Linked DNA regions of Homo sapiens: regions 2, 3, 4, 5, 6 and 7 are each reported to be linked to region 1. The links are microRNA targets in miRTarBase. Many come from high-throughput screens and were not tested one by one. Region 1 holds a microRNA gene; each other region holds the end of a gene's coding sequence.

Evidence for each region. The annotated mature microRNA hsa-miR-133a-3p reads UUUGGUCCCCUUCAACCAGCUG and lies in region 1 at 1,538-1,559, shown strand. An mRNA with a match to its seed (bases 2 to 7 or 8) in the 3' UTR can be bound and repressed. Matches are read on the target gene's strand: a 7mer-m8 pairs with bases 2 to 8, a 7mer-A1 pairs with bases 2 to 7 and ends in A, and an 8mer does both.
Region 2: the mRNA of CMTM4 is a reported target of hsa-miR-133a-3p. Seed matches in the 3' UTR shown: 7mer-A1 at 2,941-2,947 and 7mer-m8 at 3,355-3,361.
Region 3: the mRNA of DYNLT2B is a reported target of hsa-miR-133a-3p. The part of its 3' UTR that is shown has no 7-base or 8-base seed match.
Region 4: the mRNA of PDE1A is a reported target of hsa-miR-133a-3p. The part of its 3' UTR that is shown has no 7-base or 8-base seed match.
Region 5: miRTarBase lists PLEKHA3 as a target of hsa-miR-133a-3p. Seed matches in the 3' UTR shown: 8mer at 3,327-3,334.
Region 6: miRTarBase lists LDLRAP1 as a target of hsa-miR-133a-3p. Seed matches in the 3' UTR shown: 8mer at 249-256, 7mer-A1 at 560-566, 7mer-A1 at 793-799 and 7mer-A1 at 1,344-1,350.
Region 7: the mRNA of CERS2 is a reported target of hsa-miR-133a-3p. Seed matches in the 3' UTR shown: 7mer-m8 at 1,034-1,040 and 7mer-A1 at 1,434-1,440.

What each region holds. Positions count from the first base shown.
Region 1 is chr18:21,823,204-21,827,270 of GRCh38, reverse strand. MIR133A1 (microRNA 133a-1) reads left to right here and starts at 1,486; the gene lies at 1,486-1,573. All of the region lies in intron 12 of MIB1 (MIB E3 ubiquitin protein ligase 1), which reads right to left. MIR133A1HG (MIR133A1 host gene) reads left to right here. Exons shown (of 3, transcript NR_110369.1): 3 at 1-1,792.
Region 2 is chr16:66,618,784-66,622,850 of GRCh38, reverse strand. It overlaps CMTM4 (CKLF like MARVEL transmembrane domain containing 4), which reads left to right. Exons shown (of 4, transcript NM_181521.3): 4 at 629-4,067. The coding sequence ends at 793. Among named protein-coding and RNA genes, the nearest start is that of CMTM3, 16 kb to the right of the region's middle. RefSeq lists an enhancer at 2,468-2,969.
Region 3 is chr3:196,287,699-196,291,765 of GRCh38, reverse strand. DYNLT2B (dynein light chain Tctex-type 2B) reads left to right here. Exons shown (of 5, transcript NM_152773.5): 5 at 392-547. The coding sequence ends at 439. PCYT1A (phosphate cytidylyltransferase 1A, choline) reads left to right here and starts at 4,040. Exons shown (of 9, transcript NM_001312673.2): 1 at 4,040-4,067. RefSeq lists a silencer at 3,614-3,723 and an enhancer at 3,897-4,067.
Region 4 is chr2:182,143,221-182,147,287 of GRCh38, reverse strand. PDE1A (phosphodiesterase 1A) reads left to right here. Exons shown (of 15, transcript NM_001363871.4): 14 at 136-252. The coding sequence ends at 209. Among named protein-coding and RNA genes, the nearest start is that of PPP1R1C, 160 kb to the right of the region's middle.
Region 5 is chr2:178,503,559-178,507,625 of GRCh38, reverse strand. It overlaps PLEKHA3 (pleckstrin homology domain containing A3), which reads right to left. Exons shown (of 8, transcript NM_019091.4): 8 at 1-3,866. The coding sequence ends at 3,739. Among named protein-coding and RNA genes, the nearest start is that of TTN-AS1, 18 kb to the left of the region's middle.
Region 6 is chr1:25,566,787-25,570,853 of GRCh38, forward strand. It overlaps LDLRAP1 (low density lipoprotein receptor adaptor protein 1), which reads left to right. Exons shown (of 9, transcript NM_015627.3): 9 at 62-2,100. The coding sequence ends at 206. Among named protein-coding and RNA genes, the nearest start is that of LDLRAP1, 25 kb to the left of the region's middle. RefSeq lists enhancers at 5-728, 729-1,453, 1,454-2,177.
Region 7 is chr1:150,962,693-150,966,759 of GRCh38, reverse strand. CERS2 (ceramide synthase 2) reads left to right here. Exons shown (of 11, transcript NM_022075.5): 9 at 1-4; 10 at 131-284; 11 at 472-1,574. The coding sequence ends at 612. SETDB1 (SET domain bifurcated histone lysine methyltransferase 1) reads right to left here. Exons shown (of 22, transcript NM_001366418.1): 18 at 4,041-4,067; 19 at 3,621-3,786; 20 at 3,019-3,230; 21 at 2,677-2,765; 22 at 2,023-2,513. The coding sequence ends at 2,396. Among named protein-coding and RNA genes, the nearest start is that of CERS2, 10 kb to the left of the region's middle. RefSeq lists cis regulatory regions at 1,271, 1,907 and enhancers at 1,198-1,342, 1,835-1,979.

The sequences.
Region 1 (4,067 bases):
TTTCAATCACTCTAAAATGTCACATCTATCACTTAGATCAGCTGTTCATTTTTAACTGAGTACATATTAAACTCTGGGCATCTGCTGACACTGGTATAACTCAAACATTTCAACTGTCTCCCTGACAGGGATAACAGATGCTGACATTATCAAATGCTGTACTATTTTTTTCCCATGGCCTCTCCTTGCCCCGATATGGCCAGTATATGAAACTGAACTGCCATCCAAAAACACACTTGAGCAACTGGATCTGCTAAACAGCTCCCATATAACTAGTAAAAATAGAAGCCAGTATTATTGCTATCTTCAGCACTTAAGTTTAGGCAGTTTAACACCTGTTTCACTTCTACTAGAAAAAATGATGAAAAAGAATTGTAGTTAATTTCACCAGCAGTATGATACTTACCAACCAACAGACGCAGAATATACTTAGTGTAAGAGTCATTTGCATACTGCCTGAATTAGCGTTGACCTCTCAGTTTAAAATAGTAACTGTAAAGAATATTTCTCTACTCTATATTTCTCTGAGAGCACTTAACTTTATAGGCAAATTATAATTTATCAAACTTTTATTTTATGCAAGAAGACACCCCTCTCAAGACATTGAAATCAACAGTAAAACCACATTATAACAAAAATTTACTCTGATTTTTCAAGTATTATCCACACAATAGATTTTAATACTTGTATCCATGGATTGTAACTAACCACCATGTATTACTAAGGCGATAATGAGAAGTAACTTGGCAATCTGTACCCAAAATGACAAAGAACTTAGTCAAGGAAATAGACCTTTAAAAGGGTTAAATTACTAAGCTATGATTAGTAACACCACGTAAGCAAAAACAAAGAAAAACTGGCATGCATGGTAGTTCCTTTCGACACAAGTCCAAGCAATACACTGAATACACATGTGATCTATTTATAAATCAAAGGGCAGAGGTACTTTCTTAAGGCCACTGATATTCCTACACCCATCAACAATTTGCTATTAGCCCTCAACTATAATGCTAAAAGAAGCAGTGGCAGTAGAAGGGGGTGACTAACTGAACTCTTCCCCAACCTTTTAGCTTAACTATTTATCTGGTTTGCTGCCTAGAGATAAATGGAAAACATTACTCTAAAATACATCAAGGTCTATTTGTTCCTTTAAATACTATTGGTTTTGAAATAGCTTATTGTCTACATGTAAGAATTAAGCAAAGACTTCGGCTGTGGACAAGATTAGAAAAAGAAAAAGAAGCAAAGATGTTGAAAACAAAGACGTACATTGATCATTCCTTAATGCAGTAATGTGTTAAAAGGAAAAGATTTTTAAACCATTAAGCGCAGGAAAACAGTAGGAAAGTGACTTCAAAATGGAAAATTTGACATTCAGTGACTGAAGCATTGGTATGATAATTTCTAACACTTGTAGAAGGTCCATGACTGTAATTTTACCAATGAAAAGCATTTAACTGTTTTGGATTCCAAACTAGCAGCACTACAATGCTTTGCTAGAGCTGGTAAAATGGAACCAAATCGCCTCTTCAATGGATTTGGTCCCCTTCAACCAGCTGTAGCTATGCATTGATTACTACGGGACAACCAACGTTTTCATTTGTGAATATCAATTACTTGCCAACTAATTTCAACTTATTTACATTATGCAGACTGTGATTATAATCAAATAACTTGTTACTGTTAATTCTACCTGGAAAAGCTAGAATGGTTAAAGATGTTTATAAAAAGCTTTATGAAAAATGTATGGATGACTTAAGGATTTCAAATAAAAATTTTACTTATTATGGTCTCTTGGTATTAAATTTCTTATCCTTCAGAAAAGAAAAGAACTGGTAATAAAATGTAGGCTATGCTTCATAATAACAACAACAACAAAAACTTCCTTCAAAGGAAGAAAATATCTGGAAAGGTCACCTAAAACCCACCTGAACACATAATGGGATTGTACAGTGTGGTTTACATGGATGTGTGCATATTTAAATTAAAGAAAACTGTAACATTATATAACACTCTAGAAATGTTTAGTCACTATCTTCCATAGTATTGGCCTTTAATTTTACCGCTATTTACCTGAATGTTAGCAGGTAAGGTGAAAAAGATGATAACTGTAGAATATCTTGTGGAGAGGCTTAAAACAGTTATCTAGTTCTTCTGACCCTGAATCAAAGGTTTTTAGTCTTCAAAAAAGAAAGAAAATGCTAAGCATCACTACTTTTACTCATGAAATATTTCACCTCTCCATATTTGTTTTCACAGCTGTAAAATGAAGAACTCTGCTAACAATAAATACTATGACTCTCCTCACTGTCTTCTTTGTCCCTTATAAAAAATATACACACAATATTCTCCTTCAGTGGGGATAAACTGAAGTAAAGAAAAAAAGTGACAATTACTCTAACATCCGTATAATTTTCTTAATGATTGCAATAAAACTATAGATAATTTAATATTATTTAATAGAGACAAACATTTCAGCAATTAATGAAGATTACTGAAGACAAGAGTAGTTTAAAGACCCAGATGTTCACACATTCTCAACTCCTGACCACTCCTCCATTTCAAAATGAACATCATTCTCTAAAAGACTGTGGGCAAAAGGAGACATATATAAATATATATCTTATCACTTCATTCAAGATCTTCTTCCTCCTATTAATTACACCTCAGTCACAGAAAGTACATTTGTGTATTACAAGGAATATGGTGTTTGAGAGTAGATGCATGAGCATACATTAGAGAAAACACACTCTAAGTATCCTATTACCGAATAGACTCAGCTATATTTTGTAGATAGCACTCAGCATGTTTACAGTTGTAAGGAAAGCATTAAACACCAAAATACAGTACAGCTTATCAAATCTTCAAATAGCCAACATAGTCTTGTTTACAGACCATATTTCAGAATTTAAAAAGTAAAAAAAGCATCACAACATTCGAGAAGGAAAACTATGAGTTGCTCACATATTCAGTAAGATTTGTAATATGTGTCTTTGTGGGAATTAGTAAGCAAATAAGAAACGCCTGTGAAATTATCTTAGTACCAACCTAAAAACAACATATATCACATCAGGTGATTCACTCATATTTTACGTTTACTTTTCACATTCAATTTCTATTCAAGAAAAATTCGTAAATACTATATAAACTTTATAATTATATTATTGTTACCTGTACTTCCAAAATACCTATCGATTGTTTTTGCCAGCTCTGCAGAGAATACTGCTGACTAATTTATTTTCATGCCTGTAAGGGAGCTCTAAAAACAGCTAAAAATGCAGCATCTTTACAGAAAGTACCTAAGTAACATGCTGATTATGCTACTCCAAAGAAATTCAGTTTTCACTTTTATCAGCAGAAATAATTTCTACTCTTACTTTAAATCCAAAATTTTACCTATATACTAAGAGATGATAAATATGGCTAAACTCTAGATGAAAACATGCCTATAAATATTAACTATCAGAACAGACAAACAGCATTGTTCTTAGTTAAGATTTCTCAAAAAAAACAAAACTGTATTAAAACATGGTGTAATTTCTACTTAAAATGCTCCAAACTTTATAAAGCACAACCAAAGTACTCAGGGTCTCATAGTGAAAATTTATATTCCCTTCCACAATTCTAAAAGACAACAATAAATGGCTTTGTAACTCTTTTCTCTTAATGTGTTTCAGTTACTATCATACTATGAGAAAACATCAAGATCAGCTTTGAAATCTAGACTCATATTGATCTGCACCTTTGAAATAGAGACTTCAAAGGACAGTCTTCAAAAATATAGGACATCTAGACACTTCATCAGGTTCTGGAAATAACAACGTGCTATATCTGGTTTTCTTTTCTTTTCTTTCTTTTTTTTTTTTTTTAGAGACAGGGTCTTGCTATGTTGCTCAGGCTGTAGTGCAGTGGCACGATCATACCTCACTGCAGTCTCAAACTCCTAGGCTCGAGCAATATTCTCGCCTCAGCCTCCCAAGTAGCTGAGACTAAAAGTCTGTGATGCCACACCCAGCTGATTCTTTTTTTTTTTTTTTTTGATACAGTCTTGATCTGTAACCCAGACT
Region 2 (4,067 bases), not on the chromosome of region 1:
ACGAACTGCTCTCCCAGGTGCCACTCAGGCGATTTGTAAGTCTTAATAATTAAAACTCTGTGCTTCTTACTCTGGAGCTGCTTACTTGGAGCTGCCCCATGAGAGGCAGGTGTGGGATGGGGGCTGTGATGTGGAACATTGGCCCTGTGGCTTGATTTGGGACCCACATGCGAAACCCTGATTTTCTGTCTATGTTACATTTTGTCTGCACTGTATTTTCTCATCTGGGACCAGAGGCCCTGAAGTTGCAGTAAAAGAGGTACTTTTGTGATTTATTTTTTTATACGTCCAAAATACTTCAAAAGAAACCTTAGGCTGTCTTTAGGTCAGGCAAGATTTTCTGTGTGTCACATGACTAGAGACTCAGCTGTGGTGTGACAGCCACACATCCAGCAGGGCTGGGCACAGGCTTCCCTTTGACTCTGAGCCACCCCGTCATATGTATTTGAAACAAGACTTTAGATCAAATGGGGCTGCTGAGAGGGGGAAGAGATCAAGGAATGAAGGCACAGGGTTGTAATGATCAGCTGGCAGAGCAGGAAGGGGCTGCATGTGGCTTGGGTCACCACAGAAGCCTTGAGGGGCCAGGCCACGTGCCCGAGGACTAACTGTGCTGGTGTGTTTTTAGATATTTGGCTTCTTGGCGACTGCGGCATATGCAGTGAACACATTCCTGGCAGTGCAGAAATGGAGAGTCAGCGTCCGCCAGCAGAGCACCAATGACTACATCCGAGCCCGCACGGAGTCCAGGGATGTGGACAGTCGCCCTGAGATCCAGCGCCTGGACACGTGAGGACCTGCCTGGATCCTCCTCCCTCCCGTCCTCGTGCCTGTCTCTCAGTCAAGTTTTCTTTCCCTTGTCCTGTCAGATTTCCATGTGATTCAGTTGAATTTTGTCCTCTTTGGTAAAAGTTCATTTTGGGAAAGGGTTTCCCGAGTGGCCCAGTGGGCGGGTCCGCGGTGGAGTTGGGAGGCCCACGTTCCTCAGCGTTTGGGGCTGTGGAGCAGCCGGCGTCACTGCCCAGGTCCACTTGAGGTCTTACCTGCCCTGAAGCACAGGCTTCCTTTGACTCTGAGCCACCTTGTCGTGTGTATTTGTAACAAGACTTTGGATTAAATGGGGCTGCTAAGAGGGGGGAAATATGAAGGAATGAAGGGACAGCATTGGAACGGTCAGTCGGCAGTGGTTCTCAGGCAGCCTTAGGCACCACCTGCTCCAAGTCAGTGTTGAGTCTGCGTGCTGGGATCCAGCCCACTCCTCATCTTCCATGCCAGGGCCCCCAGGCAGCCAGCACCAGCCCAAAGGCCACAGGGCTGGGGAAAGCTGATGTCCTGTTAGGATGGCTCCCAGGGACCTCTGACTCAAGGAAGGGTGACCTTTTGTTTCCTACTCTGCTGAGAAATCACTTGATTCTTCCTCAAATGAATCACCTTCCTGAACCCCAGATTCTTCTCCAGGAATATGGGGGCCATCTTGTTATGGGGACTATCTTGTTTTCCAGTTTCCTGCCTACCCTAAATACTTTGAGGCTGAATTGCAGATTTTCAGTCATTTTACCTTCTCAGGTAAAAGCCATGAAAGAAACAAGCCTACTCCACCAGCCAAAGCACTTGCCCATTTGCTGGCTTCATGAACCGCAGGTGGGAGGTGTTTGTGTTAAAAAACAGCATGCACACGCGTGCGCGCACACATGCACACACACACCCCTCTATTTTAGGGATGTGTGCTAATTTTCTAAATGCCTGCAAAGAGTTCTAAAATGATTCTGAGCAGATTCGTCTAGGATTTGAAAATACTTGAATTTGCACCAGAACACACCCTTCCACCCATGTTTCAGAAGGCACTAATTGTCGCTTTGGGCGCCTCAGTGTCATAACTGTAGACATCATTCTTGGGAGTTGTTGGGGGGAAAAATCCTAGCTACTTAAGGTTTCTGATTGATTCTTGATAAAGTGAAGATTATTGTGTGTGGTGAATGAGTTCAGTGAGTCCCCATGATGCAGTAGTTTTTTTAAAAAATTAGAGAGTAATTATATCTTTTATGGAAAAAAGTTGTTTTAGTTTGTCAGGTTTTCCCTCTTTGAACTGTTTTTAATGTTTACAAACCTCACTTTAGCTCTAACATTTTGTGTTTAGCCCTCACCAAAAAGCACTTACTGTGGCAGGAAGATTTTGCAGTAACATGGAGAAATCCCCAAGATCAAGTGCTGACAAATGTTGACAGCTTTAGCAGCGTACTGTGTAATAAATAACTCCGAGGGGGCGGCGGGGGGTCTGTGCAAGAAAGCGTCACCTTATGGACATGTGGCGTCTCATTCCCCAGAAAAGGACAGCATCTGAGCTCACAGTGTTGATCAGGCAACACTGCTGGGCTGGGGGTCGGAGTTGGGGTTAGCTTCCTGCACCAACACCTTCAGTACGATCTGAGTTGGGAGCAGTGTCCCAGGCTATGTGGCTGAGCACCACGTCTGCCTCAGGGGCTGACCCTGCTAGCCTGTTAACAACTCGTCTCCCCTCTGCTCCCACAGAGAGGGCAGCCAGGCCAGCTCACAGCTGGGTGTGCTGCCTGTCAGGTCTGTTGAGTGTGTTTGCAAAGTCAAAATTGGGCTTATCTCTCTTTGAGAGTTCCTTTTAAAATAGGGCCACAAAGGCTCAGCCTTGCATTAAATGGGGCCCACTTGGAAGGACCATCCTGAGCTTTATCAGAAATCTCCTGCTGGGAATCATGTTACTTGGCCCCCAAAAAAGGCCATCTTTGAAGTGAGATTGAAAACAAGAACACCATTCAGGTGGGCTTGTTGCCCAAGTTTTCCCAGCTCACTTCAGTAAAACCACTTGATCATCTGGTGAAAGAGGGGGGCAGGTGGTTGGCCTCCTGAGGATATGTTGTCAGCTGCAAGAAATAGTTCTGAAGTCACTGAAACTAAATGCAGATGAATGACCAAAAAGGATGACACGCCAGAGAGTGACTTAGGAGTTAATTTGCATCTTCGTGATAGACTCTTCAGAATTATTTATGTCCCTGTAACTATTTAATATCCTTTGTGCCGTGAGGCTCCTCGGTGGTTTTGTAAATGTTCTCCTTGTATTTAATTAACTCCCACTAGAACCGGAAGTGGTGCTATGGACGCTTTCTAGTTGATGTAATGTGTGGTTGCACATGTCATCATGTATAGACCACGTGGTGACGAAAGTTCTGGAGGGAATAGGGTTATCCAAGGTGAATATGAAGACGCCTATATTTTTCTTATATTGCCTCTATATGCAAACAGAAGACAATCGATATCTGGGGGCCTTAAAATGACCTCTTGGCAAATTGAAGGAAGCGTTTTTGCGTTTAATAGTTTCAATAGGGACCAATATCAGTTTGGTTTGGGGCATTTGAAGGCTGAGCGACCTTAGTTTTTCTCAGTGTTCTGGTGGGACGATATTGGTTTTCACATTTAAAGCAAAACTTGAAGAAACTGCAGTTGCTGTGTGCATTTGGGTTTTTTCCTGGACACTGTACAGCTGAAACCCTCAAGCATTTGGTGGAACCTCTGGTGGTTTTAGATGGATGCAAACACTGATGTCCTCAGAGAAAGTTTATTTTGGCACTGATTGGGTGGATTTGGTATTTTTTCCCTCTGATTCTCTTTGATATCCTTCTTTCACACTGCTGAAGGCATGGGAGGGAAATATGTTTTCCCTGCCTTAAAGAGGGATTACAGTCATGAAAGGCTGGAGATACTTGTTGGCCCCACATAAAGCTGGGAAGAACAGATGCAGTTTCAGATTAAAATCTCGTCAGAGAAGTTTGATTTGAAGTAAACAGCCATCCGAGGGAGGTGACTTTTGTCTACAGAAAAAGCAAGAATGTGGCAGCCTGCACAGCCCCAATACACATCTTCCTTGGCAATGTGAGCTGAAGCCAGCATGGGCAAGTCCGGCCCAGCTCTGAGCGCTTGGCCCTGGGAAGCCAGCGGCACCCCCAGCCCTTCGGGCCCTGTTACTGTCCCCTGGCAGGAAGGCTCACGCCTGTGGGCAGCCAGGGAATGTGTCTGACCTCCACCCTATGTCGGGTGCT
Region 3 (4,067 bases), not on the chromosome of region 1:
GCTCACGCCTATGATCCCAGCACTTTTGGAGACCAACATGGGTGGATTGCTTGATCCCAGGAGTTCAAGAACAGCCTGGGCAACATAGTGAGACCTCATCTTTACAAAAAATAAACAAAATTAGCCTGGTATGGTGGCAGGCACCTGTGGTCCTAGCTACTCTGGAGGCTGAGGTAGAAGGATTGCCTGAGTGTAGGAGGTCGAGGCTGCAGTGAGCTGAGATCACACCACTGCACTCCAGCCTGGGTGATAGAGTGACACCCTGTCTCAAAAAAGAAAAAAAAAATTGGAAAGATCTGAGATGGTGTTAGTTTCAGTTGCCTGTGCTGCTCTCATTCCCTCTTTAGTACTAACATTCTGGATGTGTGTGTGTGTTGTATTTATTTTTTAGGACAGTTTATTCTGCGTTGTAGCAGCATTTGGCTGTTTCTACTACTGAATGAATCTTTGAAAAGCTGGTAAAAGACATGACCATGAAGAAATCTGAACTTTTTAATATTGTTAAATATCTTGACAAAATAAAGATGTTAGTAGTTTGACAACTGAATCTGTTGTGTTTTAGGCCTTATATTTTTAATGTTTTGATTTTGTTACACTATGTTCTGTTTCTTTCTTTCCTTCCTTCTTTCTTTCCTTCCTTCCTCTCTCTCTCTCTGTCTCTCTCTCTCTCTCCCTCTCTCTCTCTTTCTCTCTTTCTTTCTTTTTTTTTTTGAGACAGAGTCTCTCTCTGTCGCCCAGGCTGGAGTGCAGTGGCACAATCTCGGCCCACTGCAACCTCCGCCTCTTGGGTTCAAGTGATTCTTCTGCCTCAGCCTCCCAAGTAGCTGGGACTACAGGCAAGTGCCACCACGCTTGGCTAATTTTTGTATTTTTACTAGAGACGGGGTTTCACCATATTGGCCAGACTGGTCTCAAACTCCTGACCTCATGATCCATCCATTTCAGCCTCCCAAAGTGTTGGGATTACAGGTGTGAACTACTGCGCCCGGCCCTACTATATTCTTGTTACACTGGAACACAGAGAAAAAAGTAGGGGAAAAGCCATTTCAATTGTTCAAACATAACCAATGGTAAAAATTTTGGTATATTTTCTACCAATGTTTTTTATTTCCAAGGTTTAAAAAACATATAATTTTGTACCCTCATTTTTCATTTCTCATGATGTTATGAACAGTTTTTATGTCATTTTATTTGCATTATGATTTTAAGATGCATGACTTAATAGCGGCATTTATTTCAATAGGTTATACCATATTGTTATTTTTGCCAGTTCCTTATTGAGGGTCTGCTTATTTCTGATTTTTCACTATTATAAAAAATAAAGACATGGCTTTATTTGTGCATAAAGCTTTTTCCTACATCTTTAAAATAACTTTTGAATTTATTTATTTTTATTTTCAGAGAATGGGCCTTGTTCTGTTGCCCAGGCTGGGGCACAGTAGCGGGACTGTAACTTGCTGCAGCCTTGAACTCTTAGGCTCAAGTGATCCTGCCACCTCAGCCTCCTGAGTAGCTGGGACTACAGGCATGCCAACACACATGGCTATTTTTAAAAAATGTTTATTTTTATTTTTTTATTTATTGAGACAGAGTGTTGCTCTGTTGCCCAGGCTGGAGTGCAGTGGTACGATCTCGGCTCACTAACCTCTGCCTTCTGGGTTCAAGAGATTCTCCTGCCTCCCGAGTAGCTGGGATTACAAGCAGGCACCACCATGCCCACCTAATTTTTGTATTTTTTTTTGTACAGATGGGGTTTTGCCACATTGGCCAGGCTGGTCTCAAACTTGTGGCTTCAAGTGATCTGCCTGCCTTGGCCTCCCAAAGTGCTGGAATTACAGGTGTGAGCCACCACACCTGGCCAGTAATTTTATTTTATTTATTTAGTTTTTGAGACAGAGTCTTGCTTTGTCACCCAGGCTGGAGTGCAGTGGCGCCATCTTGGCTCACTGAAACCTCAGCCTCCCAGGTTCAAGAGATTCTCCTGCCTCAGCCTCCCAAGTAGCTGGGATTACAGGCATGCGCCCCCACGCCTGGCTAATTTTGTATTTTTAGTAGAGGCAGGGTTTCACCATGTTGGCCAGGCTGGTCTCGAACTCCTGACCTTGTGATCCGCCCATGTTGCCCTCCCAACAGTAATTTTATTTTTTATAGAGATGAGGCCTTGCTATGTTGCCCAGGCTAGTGTTGAACTCCTGGCCTCAAGTGATCCTCCTGCTTTAGCCTCCCAATATGCTGGGAGTACAGGCATGAAACACCATGCCTGGCTGCTTTTTCCTACATTTTGAATTGTTGCCTTCATCTTTCTCACACAGTGTTTTTGCTCAGCTCTTGCCATCCTATGTCTTACATAGCTTATTAGCCTAAACACCCATCCATTTTCTTTGTCCACAGTGTCAGGGTCTTATGAAATTCATCCTCCCTTAAGACTGAGATTCTGATGTTGGTTACTATCTCAACTCTATTTTTGTAGTGATGTTCCCCTTAGAGGCCGCGGTGTCTTCTCCAGCTAACTGTCCTTATTTGGGGTACCTTAGTCTAACCGCCATGTTCAAAGACATATTTGAAATTCAGGTTTAAATCCTTTTTCCCCCTGGAAACTCCTCAGCAGATGCAGTTATACCCATCCTCTTTCTTCTCAGCCACTTTCAAGTTAAGCATGTAGACCAAGCTTGTCCAAGCCGCGGCCCAGAACAGCTTTGCATGCGGCCCAACACACATTTGTAAACTTCTAAAACACATGAGGTTTTTTTTTTTTTTGCGATTTTTTTTTTTAAGTCATCAGCTATTGTTACTGTTAGTGTACTTTATGTGTGGCCCAAGACAATTCCTCTTCTACCAATGTGCCCCAGGGAAGCCAAAAGATTGGATACCCTTGATGTAGACAAAAAAAGCAAAATAAAATAAAAAAAGCAAAGCAACAACAATAGCAACAAAAAGTTGACTGGGCGCGGTGGCCTGTGATCCCAACACTTCGGGAGGCTGAGGCGGGCAGATCACTTGAGGTCACGAGTTCGAGACCAGCCTGACCATCATGGTGAAACCCCGACTCTACTAAAAATACAAAAATTAGCCGGGCGTGGTGGCGCATGCCTGTAATCCCAGCTACTCGGGATGAGGCACGAGAATCCCTTGAACCCTGGAGGCGGAGGCTGCAGTGAGCTGAGATCGCGCCACTGCACTCCAGCCCGGGCGACAGAGCGAGGCTCCGTCTTTTAAAAAAATAAAAGAATAAGTAAATAAGTTTAAAAGGTCTTTTACTTCAGTCCAGTTGGTAACTAAAAAATAATAATACATTTTTTTTACATCCTTCTTCCATAATATTGTGTAGCCTCTTACATCTACGGAATCAAAAGGGATCCTTCCCAAGGTTCATTCTAGCAAAGGAAAACGTTTCTTTCCACCATACACCCTGCGACACGTGTCTTAATCCACTCCTGCTCAACTGGCTCCCAGTGGATCCCTAGGGATTTTTTTTTTTGGAGCCAACGTGGGTCAGAAAAAGGAAGAGGGTGGGTCAGCCACAGGTTTTCAGCGGACTGGGCTGGCGGTCGCAAATTCCCCTTACTTCCCCACGTAGGTAAAAGCTAACGCTGCGGCGAGGCAGCCGCGGTCGGGGCGTCTCCGCTGAAGGCGCCCGGGCCTCCTGCACGTTGGCTGCCCGGGTGCGGGGGTGCGGGCTGCGGTAGGCGCGGAGGTGCAGCGGTAGGACCTCCGCGCACAGGCCCGCCTGGGCGGACACAGCCCGAGTTGGACACGGGAGCAGCCGGGCAGCGCGTCTTGACGGACCGGCGAGCACTTGGGCCGGTTCACATCCGTATCCCACTTCAAGGAGACGTCTTCGCTGCATCCTCCGGTTCCGGGTGGAGGCTGACCCTGGGCCATTCCGTCTCCGGTCTCTGGTATTTCTGCTGGGTCACTTCATCCCGGGGGCCTCTGAGGAGGCGGAACTACTGTGTCAGGAGTCGTGGTTTTCAAGGAGAAGTCGTGGTCGGATTGACAGAGGTAGGGGAAGTAGGCGGAACTTCCGGCTGGCTCTTCCATCAGCTGCCTTCCCCGGGCGTCTCCCC
Region 4 (4,067 bases), not on the chromosome of region 1:
GAAAAAATGTGCCACAAAATCCATTGTAAAATTCAGTCTTCAACATTTTATAAAGTTCTTCAGTCTCCTAACCTTATTAGTTTTTTCCAAAGCCTTATTTTGTTTTGTTTTGCTTTTGTTTCCTTATATTTTTAGGTGAATCTGATCTTCATAAGAACTCAGAAGACTTAGTAAATGCTGAAGAAAAACATGATGAGACACATTCATAGGCCCGAAACACCTTAAAGACTTCTGTCATTTTAAACATGAGAGGTAATTTTATTTTATAGACCAGAAACTTAACTTCTAAAGTAAATGGTTTGCAGAATACCATTATGGATGAAATTTTCTTATTTAAATGCCCTCCTAGAGTTTTTTTAATCTCTATCATCAATCCTTTGAGACAAAATCTTAACAGGTAAACTTTAAATATTTACCTTTTCAAATAGTTCTTAATTTGTTAATCAACAAAAATTATATTTACTGGAACTGAAATTTTCAATCTTTAAAAATAATTTTAAAAATGGCCGGGCACAGTGGCTCATGCCTGTAGTTCCAGCACTTTGCGAGGCCAAGGCGGGCAAATCACAAGGTCAGGAGTTTGAGACCAGCCCGGCCAACATAGTGAAATCCTGTCTCTACTAAAAATATAAAAAATTAGCTGGGTGTGGTGGCAGGCACCTGTAATCCCAGCTACTTGGGAGGCTGAGGCAGGAGAGTTGCTTGAACCTGGGAAGCAAAGGTTGCAGTGAGCGAGATCAGGCCACTATACTACAGCCAGGGTGACAGTGCAAGACTCCATCTCAAAATAATAATAATAATAACAATAATAAATACGTTCATGGGGATGTTTAATCCTCATTTCTTTTTCCACATCATGTAAGAAATATAAATGTTTTAGACTGATTTCTTGTTTTATTTCATGTAAAAATATGTTTATACCCAGTAATTAAAACAAAGCAAGTACATATTATAAAGCAAATATCATGTTCCTTAAAATCTGTGAACATGTGCATCTATGGTTCTCTTTTTAAAAATTCAGCTTCTAGGGCTTGTTTTCAGTCTACCAAATTATTAACTCTGGGAGTGATGCCTTGAAAATTTGAATTTTTGATAAGCCAGTCTGTTGATATTTCTGTCCACTAAAATTGAGAACCACTGTCTTGAACCGATGGCGGAGATATGGGCAGTTAGAAAGGAGGGATGTGTATTTACAATGGAGATGTCTTAATATCTACTAAAAATAAGAAGAAGTAAAGAACAAAATCCAAGTGTTATAACGCATCCTGTTATGGGGGTGGTGGGTTGGGGCAAGAGAAAATGCTGAGGGTACCATTCCAAACCTTAGAGATGTTATTATTAGTTCCACAGCTGTTACTTTAGATATGAAAGTGTTAAAATGTGATTCGCTTTTAAAATAATTTCTTCCTCAATATTCTTGAGTTACAAAGACAGTTAGTTGTTAGACTGTCTTTTATTCATAAGAATAGTTTTGTGAATAGCAACAATAAAGTGTCAGGCACTGTGGTGAACATCTTGTATATGAAGTACCTTTTTGCATTTTTCTTTTTTTATTTTTGGAGACCGAGTCTCGCTCTGTTGCCCAGGCTGGAGTGCAGTGGCACAATCTCAGCTCACTGCAACCTCTGCCTCCCAGGTTCAAGCAATCCTCCTGCCTCAGCCCCGCAAGTAGCTGGGACTACAGGCACCCACCCCCAAGCCTGGCTAATTTTTTTGTATTTTAGTAGAGACAGGGTTTCAGCGTGTTGCCCAGGCTGGTCTCGAACTCCTGAGCTCAGGCAATCCGTCTGCCTCGGCCTCCCAAAGTGTTAGGATTACAGGCGTGAGCCACTGCACCCGGCCCCTTTTTGCATTTGTGTGCGGCCCGCTCAAAGTAAATATAATATTTAAGCCCGAGCAGACGATTTGGCAATTTTTTTTTTTCTGTCAAGGCCAGTTAAATTATTTAGCTTCCTTCTCAGTTTGAGAAAGCCCTGCCTTTGGTGCACAGTCTTCTGGGAAATGTGATCTTCAGTAGCACCTTATAAATTTTATATGTTCACTAATTATGTAACCTCAATAGAATTCTGCTGCAACTGAGTTGATACAGTCCTACAGTATATGTTAAAGGAATTATGTCAAAGTTAATTGGTGCAAAGTTTAATTGTTGGAATATCTTTACTCAAACTTCAGACAGAAATTCACATAGCTTCCCAAAACAAGTAGGTCTTTTAAATGAGGGAAATGAGTGAGGTCTAAAAACAACAGGAGGGGTGACGATTGGCAACTGTGACTCAGGCATGGTGTCTGGGAGACAACAGGCAGTGATCAGTCCTGGAAACAGAGAGGACACAGCACACCCAATCTGAAGGCTACAGTCAGCCACTCTTTGGCTCTGGCAGATTTTTACTCTGGCAGAGTAAGGGCCCAGTGTTGCCAGCTGTTTCTAGTGGTTAAGAAAGGTTCTTAAAGTAAACTCTTCCAATTTTTCCTATTGGCCCAAAGTTTTTTGAAATGTTTTGTGGACAAGAGAAAAATATATCTGAGGGTCAGATTTGGCATGCAGGGTTTCTGTTGCAAATTTAGCACACCTTCTTTGTGACTGATAGCTAATTCTTTGCTGGCTGCCATCACAGAAAGTGTAGATGTTATCGCAGCCTGGCCATGTCTCTGAAAGCCATTACCTGCTTTGTTCTCAATGTGTAGGTCCCACTGTGAGGCAATTTCCCAGAAAATATTGAGCTCTAATTAAATCTGTGCCGTGTTGAGACTTCATAAATCAATGTGCAACACTACACTTAGGACAAGAAAGAAACCCTTCAAATCTACTTTTCACATTGTTGTATAATTTCGCCATCATTTCTAGGAGATTTTAGACCACGAAAGTGTTTTGTTTTGCTTACATTTTTCTTTTGTGTTTTTGTTTATTAAAGGAAATAAAATGGAATGGTTGGATATATAATCCCAGGCTGCTTTATTATTTAAAAAGCTAATGGCATATCATTTATCACATTATCTTTCTTGAAAGATATGTCAGGAATTTCTGGCATTTCCAAAGCAAGCCACTATCAGACCTGTTACCCACTGGGAGGAAAGTGTTCCCTATCACGACCGGTGTCTACTCTTTAACGTTGAGTGTGCTATCCAACAAGAGATCAAAATTGATCATTTGTTGCTGTATTTAGTCAGTAGACTTGCCTGGACTTTCACACTGATTTAAAATATCTTTTGGAATATCTTTAGGCAGGGCTTATGTTCTTTAGTTGACTACAGTCCCTGTGAGTCTAGTTGTTTTACACTCACACTGGCCCACTTAACTCATTTACACTACCTGACAGGCCCGTATGCCTATCTGATCTAGAGAACCAGAGTTTTTACTGGAATTGAACACACACACATACAAACACACGCACACACACCCAGAGCAGAAATAGGAAGAGAAATTCCAACTGATGTAAAACCACTATCTATTAGAAAGATAGTAAAGAAAGCCAGGACGGGTGCGGTGGCTCATGCCTGTAATCCCAGCACTTTGGTAGGCCGAGGTGGGTGGATCATGAGATCAGGAGATCGAGACCATCCTGGCTAACACGGTGAAACCCCGTGTCTACTAAAAATACAAACAGTTAGCCGGGCGTAGTGGCGGGCGCCTGTAGTCCCAGCTACTCGGGAGGCTGAGGCAGGAGAATTGCGTGAACCCGGGAGGCGGAGCTTGCAGTGAGCCGAGATGGCGCCACTGCACTCCAGCCTGGGCGACAGAGTGAGACTCGTCTCACCAAAAAACAAATAAAATAAAATAAATTAATTAATTAAAATTTTTTAAAAAAAGAAAGCCCTTATTTTTGACAAGGTATGTAAAGTGCAATGTGAATTGCCACACAGTAATTGATACCTGTGTATGACTAAGTGATGACCTTCAGTTTCTATGTTTTCTTTTCTTTTTATTTATTTATTTTTAAATTCACAAATAAAAATGGTGTGCAACATGTTTTTTTTTGAAATTGTGGAATGGCTAAATCAAGCTGATTAACATATTCATTACTTCACATGCTCATCTCTTTTTGTGGGGAGAACATTTAAAATCTCTC
Region 5 (4,067 bases), not on the chromosome of region 1:
AGAATGACTGCTGAACCATAGAACAGGCCTGGAGGGCAACAGTACAAATGGCAGAAGATGAAGGACTGTGGAAGAAATGTCCCTAAAGGATGACAAAATATTTTTAAAAACTTTTTTAAGAGAATTGATACGATTATCTGATGTTTTTCAGCATTTAAGCCTTTGGATAGTCATTGTGACAGGTACATTAAAAACTAAGCAAATTTGAAAATCAGGCAATACCAACCCCAGAAAAAATAACATTCTAGTAAAAAGGAAATAATGATAGTTAACCATGTGGTACATCAGTGAACTACATTTATGTCTATCTATTTCACAAAAAGTTTGTTCTAACTAAAAGTTGTGTGAATATAAATCTATTTTGGGAGGGGTGGGGGAAGAAAAATGTGGGAGGTGGAGAGTTTAAGTAAAGTAAATCCTGTCTACCATAAAAGGTATTCGAGAAACTGTTTCTGAAATTGATAAGTCAACAAAAAGTAGTATAACATTTTCAAACAGGAAGGTAAATACTAACACAAACCACTAAGAGTTCCAAGTGTTTGTCTTTGGAATGCTAAACTGGGGAAGAGGGAACTACACTTTTTCACTATAAACCTTTTAGTTCTATTTGATTTTTTCAAACTATGTACATTAACTAGTTTAATAAAAAGAAAGCTAAAATTAAAAAAAAAACAACAGAATTTCAAGTTAAGAATTCAACATGAATTCAAAGAGTGGATTGGGGAGACAGAAAGACATGAACAAGAAGGCCTACCTACCAGCTACCTACCATTCATTTACCCGCCAGGGTTATTAAAAGACAGACCTCCTCAAAGGAACTCCTGCAGCCTAATCTGGCTTTCTTTCAGGCCAGGACACTCCCTCTGTACCAAGTACCCAGATCAAGGCTCAAAGTACAGACCTAGAGGTGCCTTATTAAATAAAAGAACTAGCAGAGTCCAAATTAGTGGTATTATCATGTATATGGAATTAGTGTAAACAGCAATCTGGTATTAACATATCACAAGGGCGCATTTCCTGAGATCTTGTGATTTTTACATTTCTAAATGTGATAATACATACTGAAAAACTACAATTCAAGGTCAAAGGTTCTAGGGCATCTGTGGAAATGAAGATACTCTATCTTCTGCCTTGGAATTTAAGTTTAAGCAATAGCATCCATTTCTGGATTTTTCCTGACTGAAGATCATGCAATAATCCCATATGATGTAAGAAAATTCAAATTCAGCTCATTTATAAAAGAATTGTATCAAAATCCCTTTAGTCATGGAGGCCTGCGATTCCCAAAGAATAGTGAGCAAGCACTTGAAATGAAAAACAAGCACTGCTTTTGCTTAGAAGATCACTGATAGGCTGCCAAGAGAACCTCCAAATTTCTCAATAACTTTTCATGTTTCTCAATAACCCCATGACCTAGACAAAGCAAAAAAAAGGGACTACTAATAACTAATAATAACCAATAATTTTTCTATAAAGTATAGAACAACTTGACAAGCTAAAATTCTTACAGAATTGTTATATGGTTCATCTTTTTCTTAAAATTCAAAAAAGTCAGGCACACTTGAAAATAAAGGACTCCTCAAAATGCAAGGTTCCCTTAAGCTTTATAGGTTTCTTCATGCTACTAATTCACTGATCAAAACCTGGATATAATTCAAGATATATTTATACTCCCACAAAAAAAATGATTTCACAGATGTGTTTGGTTCCTAACAATAACAACAAAAAGTGGCTCCAAGTCATAACAAAAGACATACTTAGGGATACCGCAAACCTGTTCAAGGACCTGTTTTAAGGGGGAAAAAATGATACAAACCAGAAATAATTGCATTGTATTTTTAAAATATTCACAGAAAACTCTTCACGAACCCATCTATTTGGGTAAAGCAATAGAAAATGGATGTGATTATTTTCTATAAGTTCAAAAGCTTGTTACGGTGTTTTCCTTATAAACCTATTACTGCAAAAAAACTCACTACCAGAAAAAACTCCCAATCAATAGCACCCTGACCTTCATGGTCTTAATACTGTGCAAGTTCTTACTACAAAATTTAAAAAAAAAAAAAAAACAAGAAAAACCTGATTACCTGCTCAACGTCATAACTTACTACATTATCAAACTTTTTTTTTCAAATTAGACATATGAAGTACAACTTATGAGCAGGCAAAGACTCCACTGAATATAGAGTAGTCTGATGACCTGTGTGTTATTTAAAATTACAAACACTTCAAGTAGCATACAGTTTACCCAAACACATATTAATGTATAGACTGTTTATGTCCATCTTAAACTTAAGATGGAAGGCCTATAATTACAGTTTTTTAAACAAATACCAAATATTAATTATTTTAAAATATCCCACATAAACTTACAAGATAAATTGAAATAAAATGAAATAGGTCACACCATTCTAAGCTCACAGGCAACAAAAATTATGCTTCATTTGTGTCTTCACCAGCAGGCCTAAATATACAAACAAACTCAAATCCATTAGAATTATATTAGTGCCTAATAAAGATTAGACAGAATATCAATGAATGTAAAAAATACAATGTATTATATGATGTGTTTGAATGCAAAAACCACGCATTTATTAAACATATGATTAACTTAAAAACAACACACCAGTTTGTTTTAAAGTGCTCCTTATCCAAAACCTTAAACAAAACTATCAGCCCAAAATGAATTCAAAAAAACAGATTACAAGGCAAACAATGACAATAGGTATGGACAGGCACTACCAAAAAATGCTATTTGTTCTTTAATTAAATAATGCCATTCTCAAGTGATATAGAGCAGTCATCTTGACAGAATTCCTTTTTGTATAAATATTCATAAATAAAAATGTCTCTAGATATTGGAAAGAGCTGCAAACAATACTTTACAACAGCAGCTTAATATCTATTTTAGGAAAAAAAAAGCACTAAAATTCTCTTCCATTGAAAGTTGTTTATTTCTCTAGTGTAAGTGAGCAAAGTCACTACAGCATTAAAATCTCTTTTCTAGAACAACGTAAAGAACAACGTATACACATCTTAAATTTGGTAGGTCACAAAAGTTAGAATGCAATCATCTTTTGAGGCAACAAGAAAATAAATACATAAAAATTAAACACTTTAACCCAAAATTTGGTATTGACAAATCAGTAGTGTCAACTTCACATATGAAGGACAATACAGTCTGGTTATTTAAAGATGCTCAATATGTCATGGTATTTGGGCTAAAGATACTTAGAATATTGTGTTTCCTTTTTGATTAAAGGAATACAATACAATCACCATCAAGCTGCTATCGTAACTCATTTTTAGCTGTGGTAAAGTGACCATTTGGTCCATGGCACAAGTTACATATATCACACTTCTGTCAAACTGAAACCTTATAAGATTTCATGTTTATAAGCTACAATACACCCTGACCATGCTGTCAGTCCCCTCAGAGTTTTTAAGAAAAATATCTACATTTGTCCTTATGGATGTCAAAATGTTACACCATCATTTGTTCAAAAAAAAAAGATGCACATTCATACTGTGAAGTTATTAGGAAAATACTCTTGCAAACAAACTATATAAAGATAAAATACACTTCAAAAGTATGTGGTTTGTTTTCTTGTTTGTCTGTTTTACAACATTCTATAAAGTGCAGAGTCCTAAGGGAAAAAACTACTCCCTATAACAATAGTTTAATTACAGCAGCTTTTGCATAGCAATACTTAGAGGAAGTTGGACACTTCAGTTTCTTCAGGAAGAGAAGGATGGAAGAGTATCTTCTGATTCAGATTGTTTTTTGGCCATAAGTCTGCTTTCTTCAGGAATGGTTGCTGATGCCAAATCTCCATTAAGTGTATTTTTTGAACAGTGAACAGGTCCTATGAAGACATTGATAAAAACGTTAAACATCCTGTCAATATTAACTCCAGTCCTCTGTGAAAGAACATTTTAAATTTCCTGTTCAGGGACATGAAATTCCTTTAGCTTCTGGCTAATTTTGTATTTCCTTGTTTGTTTCATGCAGGAAAACTTAACTTTTAGACTAGAGTATCAACAGCCACAAGGAGAAACATCAGAAT
Region 6 (4,067 bases), not on the chromosome of region 1:
CTGACCCTGGGGCGCGCCAGCCCTCACCCAGGCTCTCGGCTCACACAGCTCTGCCTTCCAGGCTTGCCCAGTCTCGGACAAACCCTCAGGTCCTGGACACTGGCCTGACAGCCCAGGACATGCATTACGCCCAGTGCCTCTCGCCTGTCGACTGGGACAAGCCTGACAGCAGCGGCACAGAGCAGGATGACCTCTTCAGCTTCTGAGGGCCCGGGGCCAGCCGGACACAAGCGGCCCTGACACGTGATGGACCAAAGCCACCTGCTGCGGGGGAGCCAGTTCTGGGGCCCGCCTGCCACCTCTCCCAGCCCTCAGCATTGTCAGCCTGAAGATCAGAGCTGCAGCCAGTCAGGCAGGGGAGAGATTTTTCTTTTAAGCCCTGCTCTTTCTCTGAGAACCAAAAGATGCCTTGAATATTTATTCAGTGACTTCTGGCTTATGCTCAGAAGCCAGTCTGCGTCAGGCACGTCTCCTGCTGCGTGACATGTGCAGTGCTGTAATCGGCTCCCGCTTGCTCTCCTGGAGCAAGCTCTGCCCTGGCTGTGGGTATCAGGACTGTGACCAAAGCATTTCTAGTCCCTTCTCTCTTTCTAAGGACCCAAATTTCCCTGGGGGCATCCTGCTTCCTGAAAGCTGTTGGATTTCAGTGATTTTTCCCCCCACCCCCCAGCACAGGAGAGCACCCACAGCCGCAGAAGGGGAATGTGTCCTCCTGCTCTGCTTCCTCAGGGCCCAGCAGGCGGGGGTTTGAGCCCTGGACCCCAGGCTCTTAGAGACTAAGGGGCAGCTCCTGACCAAAGACGATACAGCTTGGCACTTTAAAGCATTAACAGCAGGTGTGACCCTGAGGGCTCCTCCATGGTGCTGCATTGAGTCCAGCTTTCCTTCTGCCCTTCCTCCAGGAGAAGGGGCCCAAGGTCCCCGTGGATGGTCTCCACCTGTGCTTGGAACCAGTGTAACTGGCTGCTCCCTGCTCCCAGGGACTGACACGGGGATCATCTCTGTGACCGCCCTCCGTCGGGCCCCTGCCTGCCTTCTCCCCTCCACGCAAGGCTGTGCTCTTCCTCTGGTTTCTGTGTGTCCGTTTGAGTGTCTGCGCCCCGCCTCCCCATACTTCCTGGGATGATGTGTGAAACCTGACACCTAGATTTATTTGGAAATATTCTATGACCACTTTACAGATGAGGAAACAGGCCTCAAGCGTGGAGGGGTAGAGTGAAGAGTAGAACCCAGGTCTGATGCCAAAGCTGCTTTCTTCTCTGCCTCCTCCTCACGCAACTCACACCTCCTTTTCTTCTAGCTTTGTTGTCCTCCCAGGAACCAAAAAACCCCAGCTATTTTCTGACCAAAATGTGTTTCATAACAAACCATCTGGTGCCTTTCCACACAGAACTGGCAGGAGCCTCGTGTCCTGCTAGCTGTCTCTCTTGTTGATTTCCGTGAAAATGCAAGTGTTTGAAGTCTGCTCATTCCGAGGGTGAAACAAAATCCAACCCTGTCAGAATCATGCTGTTCTCTTTGCTGACACTGTGACCCTGGGTCGGGACAGACCAGCAGCAATCTGTCTTTAGAATCGCTTTCCTTCCTCCCCTTTTGCCCCCGTGGGGCTCCCGGCATCCTGAAAGCCAGCAAAGCCTCCAGCATCTTTTCCATCCTGAGGTGCCTCCCAGTGGCCTGGCTTGTCGGAGCAAGTTTCATCAGCCCTAGGGAAAACACGGCCCTCCTGGGAACCTCCTTACCTGGAGTAACCGGACACCTTAGACGGAGGTGCCTGAGGGTGGGGTGGGATTTGCAGGGTCATTATCAGAACATGAGGATAACTTCCTTGCCCCTGCTCTGTAGCCACCTCCTTGGCACCGGCCTCTATTTGTCATAAGGCGGCGTGGGCGAGGCCTGACACAGGCCAGCCTTGGCACGAGGGGGGCCAGGGGTTCTGAGAAGCGCTGCCCTGTGAGAGCCACGCTGGCCTTCGTCTCCATCTCTGGTTGACGGGCTGTCCGTGTGCCTCCTGTGTGTCTGCAGACAAGTCTTGCTGTGCTTTATTTGTGAAACTTTAATGAGGAAAAAACAAATAATAAATGTTCTCGTTTTGAAACTCAAGCAACGCTCATCAGGTGGAGTAGACTGGCGGCAGCGTCCGGCGGCTCCTGCCCTTTGGGGATGGCAGCAGCAGTGACCACAGGCTGGGTGGGGCCGCGTGCCCAGGGGCAGCACTGAGTGGGGGTGATGGTCTTAGGTTCCTGGGGTTGAAGGCCCAGTGGGGCCCCCTTTTCACCCAGCAGCTGGGTGTGTGTGTGATGAGGTCACCTCTGGATGACTCATGGAGGCTACACCAGGGATCTGGTGCATCGGCTGAAGCGTCTGAGAGCCCCGGCGGGGGACTGTGGCCAGGCTGTGAGTCCCCTGCAGTGTGCATGAGGTTGTGTACGTGTCCACGTGGGCGTTTTCCACAGAGAGGATGTCCATTATTTCCATCACTTTTTGGATCCGCAACACTTTATCATTCCACAGACTTGCTCCGGGCTGAACGTGGACTGGGCCTGGGTCTCAGTACTGGGGACAGGGGTCCAGGCGTGGCCCAGATGAACTCAGGATGTGTGGTTTGGGTGTGTTGGGGGATGGTGGGAAGTATTTCAGTGTCTTGAGAGACTCAGGGTCTAGCCCTAGCTCTGCCACTTGGAGGCTGTGACACTTGATCAGTCACCTCTTGAGCCTTGATTTTCCCGTCTGTGAAAATGGTGCAATGACCTCCCCGCTTTTTACCACCCTGGGTTTTGTGTGACTCAGTGGTGACCATCATCACATTGTTGGTAGAACACTTGTGCATTCAGGTTATCTCAGAACCAAAGGCAACTGGAACTCAATATGTCTAAAAATGGTAAAGTAAAATAGTTAGCAACCAGTGTTAACTGAGCTCTTACTATGTGCCGGGTGTTGTGCTGAGCTCTGCACCATATTGCAACGGTTGTGCTGAGCGCAGATGGCAGATGGCATTAGCTCCCGTTACTGCTGAGGACACTGGGCTGGGAGAGGAAGGCAGCTGTGCTTCAAGTGCTGGGCGGGGCCACAGCTGAGCCGCCAACCTGTGTGGCCCTTACCCCGCCATGTCCTGGCTTCCCAGGAGCCCAGTCTGGCCATATGCTGCCCGAGACCACCTGTTGACCTGTGCGGTGACCCTCACAGAAAGGCCACTCTCTTCAGGTTCTTTCAGCCACTCTCCGGAGATTCCCCAGGCCTCTGCCCCTCAGCTGTGGCTTGTGGGGGTCCACTTGGACATGTATCTCTTTATCCCTTTGAAACTGGTATTTTAAGCGTCCAGAACCCAGAGGCAGAGCCCTCATATCAGCATCAGGCTGACTCCCTGTGAATTCTCAGTGGTTCATGGATGACTAAGAAATCCTCCCCTTTCTTCTTTCCCTCATAATCTGAAAAGACACCCAACAAGTTTATCTTTCGGTTTAAATTTGGCCAATGTCTTTAGTCTCCGGATGTCTCGGATTATGAATCCTGAGCGCCAGCCGTCTGCTCTTTCATGCATAAGGGATGAAGCCAGGGAGAACAAAGTCGCCTTTCAGATTTGACGTGACTTTCAGCTTCACTGGGTGGATGTTGGGGTCTGCTCTCCCAGGAAGAGATCCCATCCCATGTACATCTGGGGACTTTTCAACAAGCCTGGCTAGGGAATAGGGGCAGATTCACATCTGGGGGGCTGGCTTGGGGCCTGGTCTTCCTCCGGCCATTCCCAGGTGCTCATCAGAGGAGGTGCCCGTTTGTATATTAAGAAGTAACCCGGCCGGGCGCAGTGGCTCACACCTGTAATCCCAGCACTTTGGGAGGCCGAGGCAGGCGGATCACGAGGTCAGGAGATCGAGACCATCCTGGCTAACACGGTGAAACCCCGTCTCTACTAAAAATACAAAAAATTAGCCAGGCGTGGTGGCGGGCGCCTGTAGTCCCAGCTACTTGGGAGGCTGAGGCAGGAGAATGGCATGAACCCAGGAGGTGGAGCTTGCAGTGAGCCGAGATCGGGCCACTACACTCCAGCCTGGGCGACAGAATGAGACTCC
Region 7 (4,067 bases), not on the chromosome of region 1:
TCTGGTGAGTAGGCAGCTAGGCTACACTCCTGTTCTGAAGAAATCAGGAGCCTTGCCTTTCTTCCCCTCCTGTATCTCCCCGGTGTCTGACCTGCTCTTGTCCACGTTCTCTCTCTCCTTGAATCCTCAGGATCCTGCATTGCACCCTGGTGTACCCACTGGAGCTCTATCCTGCCTTCTTTGGCTATTACTTCTTCAATTCCATGATGGGAGTTCTACAGCTGCTGCATATCTTCTGGGCCTACCTCATTTTGCGCATGGCCCACAAGTTCATAACTGGAAAGGTGAAGCCCTGTTCCCATTGTGTAGGCCTTACTACTCTCTACAACTTCCTGAACTCCCATCTTGCCAGTAACTCTCTAAAAAACTAGTGTGGAGCCCTGGGTATAACAGGAACAAGCCCTCAGAGAGAAGCAGTACTTAGGGGTTTGAGGATCTCATGTAATAACCCTTCTTGTCCCTTTTCCACAGCTGGTAGAAGATGAACGCAGTGACCGGGAAGAAACAGAGAGCTCAGAGGGGGAGGAGGCTGCAGCTGGGGGAGGAGCAAAGAGCCGGCCCCTAGCCAATGGCCACCCCATCCTCAATAACAACCATCGTAAGAATGACTGAACCATTACTCCAGCTGCCTCCCAGATTAATGCATAAAGCCAAGGAACTACCCCGCTCCCTGCGCTATAGGGTCACTTTAAGCTCTGGGGAAAAAGGAGAAAGTGAGAGGAGAGTTCTCTGCATCCTCCCTCCTTGCTTGTCACCCAGTTGCCTTTAAACCAAATTCTAACCAGCCTATCCCCAGGTAGGGGGACGTTGGTTATATTCTGTTAGAGGGGGACGGTCGTATTTTCCTCCCTACCCGCCAAGTCATCCTTTCTACTGCTTTTGAGGCCCTCCCTCAGCTCTCTGTGGGTAGGGGTTACAATTCACATTCCTTATTCTGAGAATTTGGCCCCAGCTGTTTGCCTTTGACTCCCTGACCTCCAGAGCCAGGGTTGTGCCTTATTGTCCCATCTGTGGGCCTCATTCTGCCAAAGCTGGACCAAGGCTAACCTTTCTAAGCTCCCTAACTTGGGCCAGAAACCAAAGCTGAGCTTTTAACTTTCTCCCTCTATGACACAAATGAATTGAGGGTAGGAGGAGGGTGCACATAACCCTTACCCTACCTCTGCCAAAAAGTGGGGGCTGTACTGGGGACTGCTCGGATGATCTTTCTTAGTGCTACTTCTTTCAGCTGTCCCTGTAGCGACAGGTCTAAGATCTGACTGCCTCCTCCTTTCTCTGGCCTCTTCCCCCTTCCCTCTTCTCTTCAGCTAGGCTAGCTGGTTTGGAGTAGAATGGCAACTAATTCTAATTTTTATTTATTAAATATTTGGGGTTTTGGTTTTAAAGCCAGAATTACGGCTAGCACCTAGCATTTCAGCAGAGGGACCATTTTAGACCAAAATGTACTGTTAATGGGTTTTTTTTAAAAATTAAAAGATTAAATAAAAAATATTAAATAAAACATGGCAATAAGTGTCAGACTATTAGGAATTGAGAAGGGGGATCAACTAAATAAACGAAGAGAGTCTTTCTTATGCCTTCCTTGCAGTTATGTAATATTTTCTTTTTTAAATTTCACATGCATGTAATTTGAGCACTTTGAGGGGCCAAGGAGGGTGGATCACTAGAGGTCAGGAGTTTGAGACCAGCCTGGCCAACATGGCGAAACCCCATCTCTACTAAAAATACATCTAGCTGGGTGTGGTGGCGGGCGACTGTAATCTCAGCTACTTAGGAGGCTGAGGCAGGAGAATCACCTGAACCCGGGAGGCGGAGGCTGCAGTGAGTCGAGATTGCACCATTGCACTCCAGCCTGGGTGACAGAGCGAGAACTCCATCTAAAAAAATTCACATGCAAGAAGCAAAGGTAGACAAGGTAGAAGATGAATGACAGCAGCCCACAGGGGAGGATGGGGATAATACCTCACTGAAAGATCCAGAATTGGGAGTATCGGGCTGAGAGAGAGAAACAAAACCACAATCTTAGTTTTATCATATTGTTAAAAGACTTTCAAGAAATAATACAAACTGGAGATAGTAGATACACAGGCTCCATTCTAAGAACAAAGTCTGTTAGAAGCAGGAACACTTGGACAAATATGGGATGGGAGGGATGTCAGGCCGAGGTTAGAGTGGTGATCTCTCCCCACCCTTTAGGGCCTTTGGAGGTGGAGAAGGGATCCTGCCTGCTAGCACCACATTGGAAGGGATCATCTGGTCCAGAACCCCCATTTCTATCAACTAGGAGCTGGGGGGAGTAGCTAGCCCAGAGACTTCGGGTCAGGGTTCAACAATCAGGAAGACCCAGTTCCTGAGGAAACGACAGTTCAAGAAGGGTTGGGAAGAAGGCTGTCCTCTAAAGAAGACGTCCTCTGCATTCAATGGCCCCACAGCAACAGAGTAGCTCCTTGCCTTCCACACTGCCCACCTCGTAGTTGTAGTCCCAAGTAAGTTCTGTCCCAGCCCGGATTCTTCTGAAGAGGAAGAAAAGGATGGTGTGTGGCAAAGACAGCAGATAACCCAGGCACTTGGGGTTACTGAATATGTAGGTGGAGTTGGATCATGAATGGAGGAGGGGCCCTTAGAACTTCAGTGGTCCTTGCCCCTCCCCAGTCATCCCCTTTCCTGACTCCTTACTTGCTGGCAAAGAAGGCCACCCAGGGGAAGCGAAGATCATGGGTATCCACGAAGACATTCTGGACAAACAGGTTGGGGCTGCAACTGTGCTGTAGGTTTAAGGACAGGATCAAATAAGAACCAGGGAAACTGAACCTGGCTTTGCAGGGAGAGTGAGAGTTGGAAGAAAAATGATGCCATCTGACCCTCCCCATTATAATAGATGCTTTGAAAGAAAGCTACCTCTTTAAGATCCTTTGAGATCAAGAGTTTATAACAAGAAAAGGGCTTATAGAGTATGTTAAAAGAAATCTGAGGACCATGGGATAATCCAGCATCTAGAGGTGGGGAGAGGGGTCTCACGTTGAGGTAGCGGCCCAGGTTGCCTTCAAGCTTGGCATCAATGATGTAGCAAGACTCCTCGCCATCATAGAATTGGCGTGTGTTCTTACGAACAGGTGCGCTCTCCCCCTTGTCCACAGAGGCCATGTTGGTTGATTTAATTGCAATCCCATGGGTTGATTTAAGAGCAAAGCCTCGGGTTGATTTTACTGCCACTTGACGCTTCATTGGACCTGGACAGGAGGGAGAATGGGGTCAGGACCCATCCCAACTCATGAACAGACATTCTATCATGAATGGACATTCTACCCCTATTTCTCTCCCAACATTGCAGCTGAGAAACACCAATAAGCTGGAACTCAAAGATCCTAAGTAGCAGGTTTTTTTTTCAAGCATAATTAGATCTGCTAGACAAAGGAGCTGAGGGGAAAGAGTAAAAAAATGGAAATGAGAGAGGATGTGTCAAACAATAGTTTAGCTTGGAGTCAGAAAGCCCTCCCAGAGATGCTCCAATTCTTAGGATCTGAATTTTTACCCACTACTTCTTTAGCTTCCTTAAAAAATGCTCTATCCCAAGTTTCTTACTATTTCTTCCCACCATTCCCAAAATTTTTCCAGGCTACCAGTCATGTTCTTCTTGTCCTCAAAGTCATCCCCTTCAGAGCCAGAGGATATGGTCTGGATATCATCACTGTCAACCGCTGTAGCCGAAGTCTGACCAGCAGTGGGCTTTCGGCTGGTCCCACTTTCCCCCTCACTTTCTGTGCTGCTGGACAGTGTCAGGACATCCTGGGGAAGCAGGAGGGTAAGAAGTAAGAGAAGTAAATGGGAAGGGCTCCTTTAAGTCCTTGCTGTTACCCACGGTTTGGCAGGAAAGGGCGGTGGCAAGAGGAAGATTAGATGCTGGATGAAAGAAAATAAGGCAGGAAGTCAAGGCTAAAGAAGTAGGAGAAGACCTAACAGTAATTATAGTGAAGGACTTGATGAGGTGACAATGGCCCATTTTCCTTTATTAGACTCTGAATAAGCTTGAGGTGACTTACATCAGGGTTGGACTGAGCAGAAGCCAT